3 linked regions of the Homo sapiens genome follow. The protein of the gene in region 1 interacts with the protein of each later gene in a pairwise test. Each region holds a gene or a part of one and is shown in the gene's direction. Other genes may lie near its edges. The genes, in order: NFU1, ZSCAN5A and SH3BP4.

The links.
Region 2: the proteins of NFU1 (region 1) and ZSCAN5A interact in binary tests that used the Homo sapiens proteins (3 or more experiments, as listed by UniProt).
Region 3: the proteins of NFU1 (region 1) and SH3BP4 interact in a two-hybrid assay, tested with the Homo sapiens proteins (one study listed by BioGRID and IntAct).

Annotation. Positions count from the first base shown.
Region 1 is NC_000002.12:69,395,729-69,399,478, reverse strand, and holds the end of NFU1 (NFU1 iron-sulfur cluster scaffold homolog, mitochondrial), read left to right. Parts: intron 1-3,188; coding exon 3,189-3,233; 3' UTR 3,234-3,353; downstream 3,354-3,750. UniProt on the Homo sapiens protein: Iron-sulfur cluster scaffold protein which can assemble [4Fe-4S] clusters and deliver them to target proteins.
Region 2 is NC_000019.10:56,224,131-56,227,880, reverse strand, and holds part of ZSCAN5A (zinc finger and SCAN domain-containing protein 5A), read left to right. Parts: intron 1-2,707; 5' UTR 2,708-2,834; coding exon 2,835-3,218; intron 3,219-3,750.
Region 3 is NC_000002.12:234,950,059-234,953,808, forward strand, and holds the start of SH3BP4 (SH3 domain-binding protein 4), read left to right. Parts: upstream 1-1,958; 5' UTR 1,959-2,112; intron 2,113-2,656; exon of another isoform or gene 2,657-3,750. UniProt on the Homo sapiens protein: May function in transferrin receptor internalization at the plasma membrane through a cargo-specific control of clathrin-mediated endocytosis.

The DNA of each region.
Region 1 (3,750 bases):
ATTAAGAAATCATAGTTTGTTGTTATACTGAGTAGAATTCTAGAGCTTTACGTGTAGCACAATATCAACATTTTTTTTTTTGCCAACATACCTAAGGAGTATAACACAGCACCTTGTCATCAGTAATAATGAGTCTCACTGCAGTGATTCTCAACCAAAAAGCATGGCCTTATGGAGAGAGATTATCAAGGAGTGAAGGGATGTGTGGAAATTAGAAATTTCCAACCCACAGAATTTCAGGTAATTCATTCTTTTTTTTTTTTTTTTTGGAGACAGAATCTTGTTCTGTTGCCCAGGCTGGAGTGCAGTGACACGCTATCTCGGCTCACTGCAACCTCCACCTCCCAGGTTGAAGCAGTTCCCATCCCTCAGCCTCATGAGTAGCTGGGATTACAGGCACATGCCACCATTTTTTGTATTTTGTATTTTAGTAGAGACGGGGTTTCATCATGTTGCCCAGGCTGATTTCAAACTCCTGAGCTCAGGCAATTTGCCCGCCTCGGCCTCCCAGAGTGCTAGGATTACAGGCATGAGCCACCGTGCCTGACCACCTCAGGTAATTCTGTGCCCTTAAGGGCTCCATTGGGAATCACTCATCCTTGGGTAGTATTAAAATTCATCTGTTCCACAGTGAGCAGGTCTATATAGACCTATCCCCAAAGTCTTAGGGAGCTGAGAGGCTGAAGACAGAGGCTGGCAAATCCAGTTGGTCAGAAAGAAACATTTAATAGGGACTGAGGAACAGAAGCCATTTATCGGGCAGCTGCAAGATGATGGATTCCTGCATTGTTACCCGCTAGACTCAGGGCTTATATACCAGGAGGAATGGGTATACATGCTTCAGAAGATATGTGTAGGACAATTGAAGTCAGCCCCTCTGGAAAAGGCAAGAATGCTATTTGCCTAATAGCCTATAATTTGCTTAAGGGCAAGATTTATGCTAAGTATGTGTTTGTTTAGGATAACATCAAGATTATTTTGACCTAAAGGCAGAATTAAGTAGAAAACTTAGAGGCATTCCTAGAACTGAGGGTAGTCAATGTGGCAGATTAGCATCCAAGATGGAGTTGCTTTAGCCTCCACACCATCGTTTTGGTCCAGTACATGACATCTTCTCTTTGAAGTTTTTATCCATCCCCCACTTGGAATTAAGTTCTTCTTTGACAGGTCCAAAGCTTCTGTTTTTGCTTTATGTTTATGTAGCTTTCTGTATCTGTTTTAGCTTTATGTTTACGTGGAAGCTCCCTAAGAGACTTGAAATCATATCCAAGTCTTTGTGTTCCTCTGCAACAACTAGCTGTGTGCCTTACAAATGTCCTATACATGCTTTGTATTAAGTATTTGGGAATATTATTCCAAATTAAGGAATAATTCTGCCTAAAATATGAGTTGGTTGACAAAATTTTTTGGATTGGGTATTGTTGAAATTGGATGTAAAATATTAATTTCTTGGGAATAAATACCAATTTTTACTCAACCAAAAAGACAGCCTATGAAAGAATTCTTTTTCTATTGATTGTCTCAGATCAGAGCCAGAATCTGGATTTTTTTTTTTTTTTTTTTTGAGACGTAGTTTCACTCTTGTTGCCCAGGCTGGAGTACAATGGCTTGATCTTGGCTCACTGCAGCCTCCACCTCCCGAGTTCAAATGATTCTCCTGCCTTAGCTTCCCAGGTAGCTGGGATTACAGGCGCGCGCCACCACGCCTGGCTAATTTTTATATTTTTAGTAGAGATGGGGGTTTCGCCATGTTGACCGGGCTGGTCTTGAACTCTTGACCTCAGGTGATCCACCTGCCTCAGCCTCCCAAAGTGCTGGGATTACAGGCATGAGCCACTGTGCCTGGCCTAGATTTTTTTTAAAAAAAAAAACCTTACTTTGTTCCATTATCATCTATATGCCTTAAAAAATTATGTTAGTTGATACTTTGGTGGATTGACTGAGGAACATTTTTATTCAATTGTCCAGGGTAGGGTGATGAATTGGCCTTCAGATTAGAAACTTGAATTGGCATCTAATTGTAGTAGGTGTGGTGAGGAGAAAAAAACATTCTTAGGTTTATGTAACTTTTTCCTTCTCCAATGGAGTTAGTCTGTTATCTTAGTAATACATTAACTCATGGAAAGATAATAGCTGTTGTAACATTTTCCTGAGGCTTAAAATGATCTTTTATCTCAGTAAGACTAAAATAATTAGTTCCTAATATGGTGGGGTTTTTTTGTTTTGTTTTGTTTTTCACTTTCCTTGGGGATTCATTTTAATAAAAATAAATGTTTTTAAAATAACAATTTGGTATAGCTTCACAGAATATATTTAAGTAAATAAGATGGTTTTGAAAAAAAGAAAAAGTCATTTACATTAGTCTTATGGCTAGAGAATACCAGTTAAATTGTTTTTTTTTTTTTGAGACGGAGTCTTGCTCTATCACCAAGCTGGAGTGCTCTATCACCAGGCACTAGGCTCACTGCAACCTCCACCTCCCCAGTTCATGCCATTCTCCTGCCTTAGTCTCCCGGGTACCTGGGACTACAGGCGCCCACCACCACGACCGGCTAATTTTTTGTATTTTTAGTAGAGACGGGGTTTCACTGTGTTAGCCAGGATGGTCTTGATCTTCTGCCCTCATGATCTGCCTGCCTCAGCCTCCCAAAGTGCTGGGATTACAGGCGTGAGCCACCGCGCCTGGCCCCAGTTAATTATTTATAGTCTTTTCTGCCCAGCTGAGACTCTGCTATGGGTAGCCTCTTTGAGACAAGGAGAAGTGATCAATGCTTTAATTAATTTCCAAATATTTAATTTGCTTTTATTTTATTTTATTTTTTTTTTGAGACAGAGTCTCGCTGTGTTGCCCACGCTGGAGTGCAGTGGCGCGATCTCGGCTCACTGCAAGCTCTGCTTCCCAGGTTCACGCCATCCTCCTGCCTCAGCCTCCCGAGTAGCTGGGACTACAGGCGCCCGCCTGGCTAATTTTTTGTATTTTCAGTAGAGATGGGGTTGCTTTTATGTTTTTAGGATACCGGGTTATGATTCAAACCTTGTTCTTTGGGGCTGTTGATAGATTTATTCTTACTGGCTTGTCATGCCTCATTATAGAGTGTATCAGGTAAAGAAGTAATATTAAAATCAGGAAAACAGCAAAATCTAATCATTTTCTTAATTCTTAAATTGTCTTTGTTTTTTGGTTTTAGGTTATGGATGATGAATCAGATGAAAAAGAAGCAAACTCACCTTAAAATAATCTGGATTTTCTTTGGGCATAACAGTCAGACTTGTTGATAATATATATCAAGTTTTTATTATTAATATGCTGAGGAACTTGAAGATTAATAAAATATGCTCTTCAGAGAATGATATATAAATATTGCATGTTTGCTTTACCTCATATGAGTTATTTATAACCTCTTGAATCATCTTCTGTACACGTGGATTTTATCCAAGGATATTTTTATTTTTGTCCCTCATTTCCCATGGCTCTTTCTTTGCATATGTGTGAAGGAGTTTAAAATACATTTCCCCCCATCTAATTTATTTACTTTTTTCCATACAGGAAGAAACAGAATGCTTTTTAGAATATTCTAAAATAGCTTTTTGTGAAATATCTAAAACTATTTTTACTGAAGTTTTTAGCTTAAGAAACAGCTAAACAAGTCTGTTTTAAAAATGGTATCTGGCTACTAGCCCCCAATTAAGTAGCAAAGAACTGCTTAAGACCAAAAAAAAGAAATCAAAAATGTCCGGGTATGGTGGCTA
Region 2 (3,750 bases), on another chromosome or scaffold:
GGTCTCGGTATATTGCTCAGGCTGGTCCTGAACTCCTGGGCTCTAGCATGTTCCCATGTCGGTCTTCCAACCTGTTAGAATTACAGGCCTGAGCCACTTTGCCTGCCACACACCCTTTTTAAAAAGCATTGCTGGATTTTCCCTTTGCACAGGGTGAAATCAAATCATTGATGAATGAGCATCAACCTACTAGGCCAATGAGAATCTGAGCTAAGTGTCCCTACCTGGGTGACCCGTGTGGTATATACTCCCAGAATTGAATACTAACTCCTGTGTCTGCCTTTATTTTTTCCTGTGTCTTGTTTCTTACTTTAACGGGGAATGAACTAAGATCAAATACAAAGTGATTTCTAGGAACATGAAACCACTTTCTTTTTTAGAGACAGGATCTCACTATGTTGCCCAGGCTGTTATCAAACACTTGGGCTCAAGTGATCCTCCCACCTCCGCCTCTGCCTCCTGAGCAGCAGCAGGCGCCCTCTGGCAAAACCACTTTTAATTCCAGAATTTCAGGCTCCCTTTTCTCTATCATATCTGTGTGCTTTTTCAATAAAAATTAATTTGCTTCTAATTGAAAACTAAAAATTGTATATATTTATGGCATATAGCATAATATGCTTTGTAGTATTACAAACATTGTTAAATGGCTAAATTGAGCTAATATTCATATGCCCTACCTCATGTACTAACCATTTTTGGTTTTGAGAATACTTGAAATCTAATTTTTTTTAAGCAGTTTCCAAGTATACAATACATTGTTATGAACTGAAGTCACCATGTTGGACAATTGCTCTTTTGAATTGATTTCTTCAATTGAAATTTGTACTCTTTGACCTATATCTTCCCAACCCCTACCCCAGCCCTGGTAACTATTCTACTCACTACTACTATGAGTTCCACTGGGTTTTTAATTATTATTTATGTTATTTACTTCTTTTTAAATTTTTTTTTGTAATTTGAACTTGTGTTTTAGATTCAGTGGGTACCTGTGCAGATTTGTTGCATGAGTATATTGAGTGATGCTGAGGTGTGAGGTATGACTCTACCCATCACCCAGGATATGAGGATAGTACCCAATAGGTAGTTTTTCAACCCTCCCTCCCTCTATCCCTCCAGAGTTTCACTGTTTTGGAGTCCACGTCCTGATTTCCTTTCCTCTGTGTACCTGCCCCGGAGCGGGATTGCCGGATCATGCAGTTGTTGGACTTTCAATTTTCTGAGGAGCTTCTATACTGTCTCCCATATCGGCTGCTCTAATTTACATCCCAGCACAGGGCGCAGAGGACCCCTTTCCCCCAAATCCTCACCAACACTCGTTCCATGTGTCTTTTTGGGAACAGCCACTCTAGCAGGCGTGAGGGGTGCCTTGTGGTTTGGATTTGCATGTCCCTGATGATGAGTGATAATGAGCACCTTTTCCTAGACCTGCTGGCCATTCACATGTCTTCATCTGAGATGTCCACACAGGCGCCTTAAGCCCTTCTAGTGGGTTATGTGTTTTCTCGCTCTGGAGGAGTTTGAGTTGCTTATGTTTTGCACAGGAGCCCCGTGAGATGTGTGGTGTGTAAATATTGTCTCCTCCTCTGGGTTGTCTCCCGCCTCTGCCGATTGTCTCCCTGGCTGTCTCTCTGTTCTGCACTTGCTCAAAGTCCTTCCAGGAAGTGTGGGGCACTCGCCCTCCAGGCTACCAGTGACTTTTCCCAAGACCCTTCTGCCAGTTTTTTCTCCCCTCTGCAGACCTTCAGGTTGCTTCCCCCACCTGTGTCTAGGAAAGCAGGGCTGTGTTCTCATAGCTGTTGAACTTGGACGATAATTGATGCCTGGAGAGTATCACTCAGTGGCTCCTGCCTAATGAAGCTAGGTTTAGGAATTAATTTTTAAAAATCTTATTATTGTATCAACCCACTTCTTTAAAATATCAAAGAGCACTAGACTTTAAATCCATTTTCTGAGATGAGATTAGGAATACAGAAACCCTTAGAGACAGAAGGTAGATTAGTGATTGCTAGGGGCTGGGGTGGGTGGGCAGGGGGTGATCACTGATGGGGATGGGGTTGCTTTTGGGTTGATGAGATAATTCTGGAAGTAAACAGTGGTAATGGTTGTACAACATGGTGCATGTCTTAGTCCCATAAAATCGTGAACTTGAAGAGAGTAAAAAATGATGAAATTTATGAATGTACATTTTACCAAAATAACAAAATATCTGTGTAGGTGCTTAATCCTCATAGGATCCTTTAATGCTGTCCCTTCCCTGGAGCAAGTAAATGTTCTGGAGTTAACAAGAATATGTGTTGGGGAAAATATTACATTCTAACTCTTTTTCTCTATCCTTTTGCATAATTATGACTAAGGGCTTTGCCTTGGATCTTGTCCTGATGGGGAAACATAAAGGGCTTACTTTATTGTTGCATCACATTTTCAGAGCTTCACCTAACTATCTTATTTAATTTATAGTCAAGAACAATGTTGTTCCAATTGACAGGAAAACTGATTCAGCCTCTGCACAGTGATTTCCTAGAGATCAGAATCCAGGGGTCATTAAGATTTTAAACCAGAGTATGTAGTCAGGTATAGACACTGGAAGATTTCCACTGTGCTGAATTCGATGCTGCTGAAGAAGTGGCATCCAGGATGAGGGATTTCGAAGGGAGGGATGGATGGAGTAGTAACTTAAACTAATGAGGCTCATACTTTTCCCCCCCAGACTTCTGAATGAACAGTGAATCTATTACTGAGGAAAACCAGAGGAAGCCTGTGTAGATAGGTATCAATTAGATACCAGCTACTGGAAGAGCTTTCTCAGAGACTGATTAAAAAATTCTCCACTAGATATGGCTGCAAATTGCACATCCTCATGGAGTCTAGGAGAATCCTGCAACAGACCTGGGTTGGAGCTGCCACGGTCTATGGCATCCTCAGAAACTCAACTTGGAAATCACGACGTGGACCCTGAGATTTCTCACGTGAACTTCAGGATGTTCAGCTGCCCGAAGGAGTCGGACCCCATCCAGGCTCTGAGGAAACTCACTGAGCTGTGCCATCTGTGGCTGAGGCCCGACCTCCACACCAAAGAGCAGATCCTGGACATGCTGGTGATGGAGCAGTTCATGATCTCCATGCCCCAGGAGCTCCAGGTCTTAGTCATGATGAACGGTGTGCAGAGCTGCAAAGACCTGGAGGACCTGCTACGAAATAACAGAAGACCCAAGAAATGGGTGAGTGGGACCCTCGTGATTGGTGCAGGGAAGGGGAGCTGGGATGGGGGCTGCACGGTGCAGCTGGACTCGAGAGGACCCGAGGGGCTGCTCTAGGTCAGGGCTTCCAAGTAGAGGAGAGTTTGCCCGTCGGGGACACATGGCAGTGTCTGGGGACAGTTTTTGTTGTCAGGGAGGACAGGAGACGCTGCTAAGCGTTCTCTAACGCTCAGGACAACCCATCATGACAAATAATCATCCAGATTCCAATATCAGCTGTGCTGAGACGGCAAGTTCCTGGTGTAGGAGATGGACAGGCAGAGGGGGTACAGGGACCCACACACTGTGTGAGGCCAACATGAAAGAAAGACATTGGTGAAATATTAGGCCTGATGGAATGTAGGGAAGGAGGCATTAGAGTGAACTGAAGGGGGGCCCAGGAGTCCCATCCTGAAGCAGGGAAAGTGGTTGGTATCAGATGCAGGGATCTGCCCCCAGGTCCCCAAATGAGCCCCTAAGTTCTAATACAAGGTGAGCTGCCATCGGCCAATTG
Region 3 (3,750 bases), about 170 Mb from region 1:
CAGTGAACTGAGCTGCCTGGACAGGCCTTGAGTTTTCTTATTCGATTGTTTTTTGTGTGTGTATGTTTTGCCTTAGCTCCCTCACTAGTATAGTCAAGGAGCTTTTCATGCTTTGAGCCATTTGTGGCATTTCAGGAATTACCTTCATAGCTTTTGTCCATTTTCTACTGGCTTGTCTTTTTCAATGTTTTTATAGGCATTTTTTAAAAAACACAGTGTGGATGTCATTTGGGATAGCAGTACTAATAGTAGCTAAAACTTACTGAAAGCTACTGTGTGCCAGGCAGTCTGCTGAGCACTTTACATGCTGCCTTTCATTTTTACACTCATTTAGGAAACTGAGTCACAGAGAGGCGAGATAACTTGCCAGAGATTCAAGCACACTCCAGACACATCCCTACACCAATCAGACCTCCTAGCCACCCAGAAACTCTCCTCTGCTCGGAGGCTTCTCTGCTTCCTCCACCTGCCCCTTCGCCTCACTGCCTCCTTTCAAAATCTGCGGCATGTATTTTAGGGATACTCGTATCCATTTTCAGGAATTCCATGATCTACACACAGATGACACCAAAATCGGAACAGCAATGTCCACCCTTCTCCCGAGCCCTAGGTCGGTGCCTCTGTCCACCTGTGTCTCCTGAAACTTCAACACAGACTTCAAATGGAGTGGCAGAAAACCAGATTCCTTAGGGAAAGGAAGGTCTCCCAGACGGCAGGAGCGGCAGGCCTTAGGGGCAGCCGCAGGGGCTCGGGAGTCTGAACATACCCGGTTTGAATTCAGACTCTGGCACGCCCCATGCGATCATAACATAGTGCTGCACGTCTCAAGCCACCTATAAAAACGGGGACAATAACAATATCTGCCTCGGGGTTAATGGTGAGGACTGACTGTGTGTGTCTCGCTCAGGACCAGGAGCAACAAATGTTGGCTTCTTCCCCGGCAAAGACCCGCGCTTTCTCCTGGGCTCCGGGTTCCCGGGGTGGGGGTGGGCGCAGTCCCGAGGGCCCCAGGCAGTGGCGCAGTGGTTAGACCCCAGCCTCTGGAGTCGGCCTCGGTTCAGATTCTGGTTCTACCCTTCTCCTCTGTGGCGAACCAACCCTCCGAGCTCTAGTTTACTCGTGTGAAATGGACTAGCCAAAATTGGGATTTTTTTTTTTTTTTAGGATTAGATGTGTCGGTCCATAGACGTTGCTGGCCACATAGTTAAGTGGTGCGTTCACTCACTGGGCATTGATGGAGCGCCTACTACGTGCCAGGCCTGTTTTACGCGCCGGGGGCCCAGAGGCGCCCAGGTCAGACAAAGTGTAAACGATTCCGACCAGAGCCCTTCAATCTGCATTCCGCTTCGCAGGAAACTCTCCTCCTTTTATGATTTTCAGCCGGACTGCCTTCCCTGTTGTTAGTTTGTAACTTTCGCTCCGGCCCCCGCAGCCTCGCGCCTGCCTTCCCTCCACTGTCCTCAGCCAAGGTGTAGTAAAGCGTCTCCGAACGCGGCGCGACCCTCGCCCACGCCCGCTCGCGGGGGGACCGCACCGCCCCAGGGGTCCTCGCTAGGGGTTCCCGGAGAAGGGGTGGGAGATGGGGGTGCGGGGGGGCACAGGAGCGCGGGCCAGCACCCAGACCTGCTCGGTACCGGGGACCCAGACCCGAGGATGCCGGGCGGCCAAGGCCCCGCTACCCTGGCCGGCTCCGGGCGGAGGAAGAAGAGGAGGCGCCCAGACTGGATACCCGCCTGGACCCGGAGCCGCGGCACCACCCCCAGCCCGCCCCACGCTCGCCAGCCTCAGACGGCCGCGCCCCGCCCCGCCCCTCTCCCGAAGCCCCGCCCCGGCGCGGGACCACCCCCTCCGCGGCCTCAGCTCCGGTCCTGGCCCCGCCCCCCGCGCCCCCGCCCCCGCCCCCGCCCCCGCCCCCGCCCAGGCGCGGGACCACCCTCCGCCCGCCGAGGCGGGGGCCCAGCGCGCCCGGCACTCTCGGCGGTCCGGGCCCCTCGCCACTACCGCCGCCGCCGCCGCCGTGAGTCCCGCGGAGCCGCGCGCGCCCCCGGCTGGGCCGAGCCGCTGGCCGACGAGCGGAGCCTCAGGAGCCGGCGGGGACGCCATGCGAGCCAGGTAGGCAGGCGGCGGCGGGGAGCGCCTCGGGCGGCAGGGCCCTGGGGGCCGGCGGGGGCGCGGGGTCGTGCTCGGGGGCTTTGCACTCCCTTGCGGGCGCAGATCGTGCCGCGGGCGCCGATCGTGCCACCGCCGCCTGAGTTCGGGGCTGCGCGGGTGCCTGGGCGTGGGGCGGCTTCGGGGAAGCCTCGCGCGCCCCTCGCCGCTCCCCCGGGCGCTCGGGTCTCCCTGGTGCTGGTGGGCAGGGACCCGGCCCGGGGTTCCGGGCGCCGAGCCGCAGCCCTCCGCGTGCGCTCGGGCCGCCCCCCAACCCCGGCTCTGGCCACTTCCCGGCGGGCGGCCCTGCGGGGTGGCCTCCCTGGGCAACCGGACGCGTCCTCGGGCGCAAATCGGGGGGCGCGCTCGGCTCACGGGGGCCGTGGGGGCCACGGGAGGGCGTGGAGGGGTCGGGGCGCCCCCCTCGAGCGGCGCTGGGGAGGAGGGAAGGACGCGCGGTCTCCGGTTAAACTTGTTGGTGACAATGCATATTTCAACTTCTTCGGAGATCCCTCCTGTGAGGATGAAATTGAAAACTCCGGTTTCTGGCTTGGCGATCGGGTGACCGAGCAGCCGCGAGGTGACAGCGCCGGCGGCCCGCGGGCGGGGACCGGCTGGGATAGAGGCGCGTTGTTCTCTGAGCGATGTTTACCGAGAAGCCCGCTCCGCGGCACGGGCGGGTGTCAGTTGGGACCCCAACCCTGGGTCCCGCGGCTCCTAGCCCGGGGCCTGCGGTGTAGACGGGGGTTGGGGACAGGCCCAGCTGGCCCTGACCGGGTGTCGGGCGCCCAGAGATGCCGCGCGGGAGGAGCCGCGGGAGAGCCGCCGGACTCAGCGAGCAGAGGGTCGTGGAGCCTGATGGATCGATGAGATCTGAAAAAGAACACTGTGCGAGATTGTATTCCTGCTTATTCTTTCCAAGTTAGTAGGCAGATTGGAACTATAGAATTTATCCGTGATAATAATAAAGTTCGCATAACTTTTGTTCTGATTACAGAAACAATGTATGCTCAGGACAGAAAGCTAGAGATAAAGAGAAATATAAACAGCAAACAGGAAACCATCCCCAATCCCACATTTTTTACCAGCCTTGTCACAGCCTGGCAGATTTGAACATTAAGTTAGAACTGGAGCCATTCTTGCCTAAACCAGAGAATCCCTGAATGCAGCCGCCCCTTCTCACCCTTGTGACCGTCTCTGAGCTCCAAAGTTTGGGTTTTTTCCTTGCTCCCTACCCGGGCAGAATCTCTGCTGGCCACGAGTCCCCTTCCCAGTGGGCTGGGGGCTTTCCTTGAGATCCGTGGCCCAGATGAAATGATGGGAGAGGCCTGGATCCTCACCGCCCTCTGTGGTTTTGGTTCCTTGCCTTGTAAAAATGAAGGTAATGATTCTCAATCTGCTTCTCAAGCCACCATAAAAATTAATGGGTGGTTTGCAGAGCGTTTTGACATCCGTGGATGGACAGCGGCTGTACTTTAAGGCGCTGGGGAACATTCTACTGTTCCTCATTGCAGTGGTCATGCAGTGTAATAGGCTGCCTCTCACCTGGCCGTCCTGCCCAGGAAACAGACTCCAGGAATGTCCAGTGGAGCCCTGAGGACA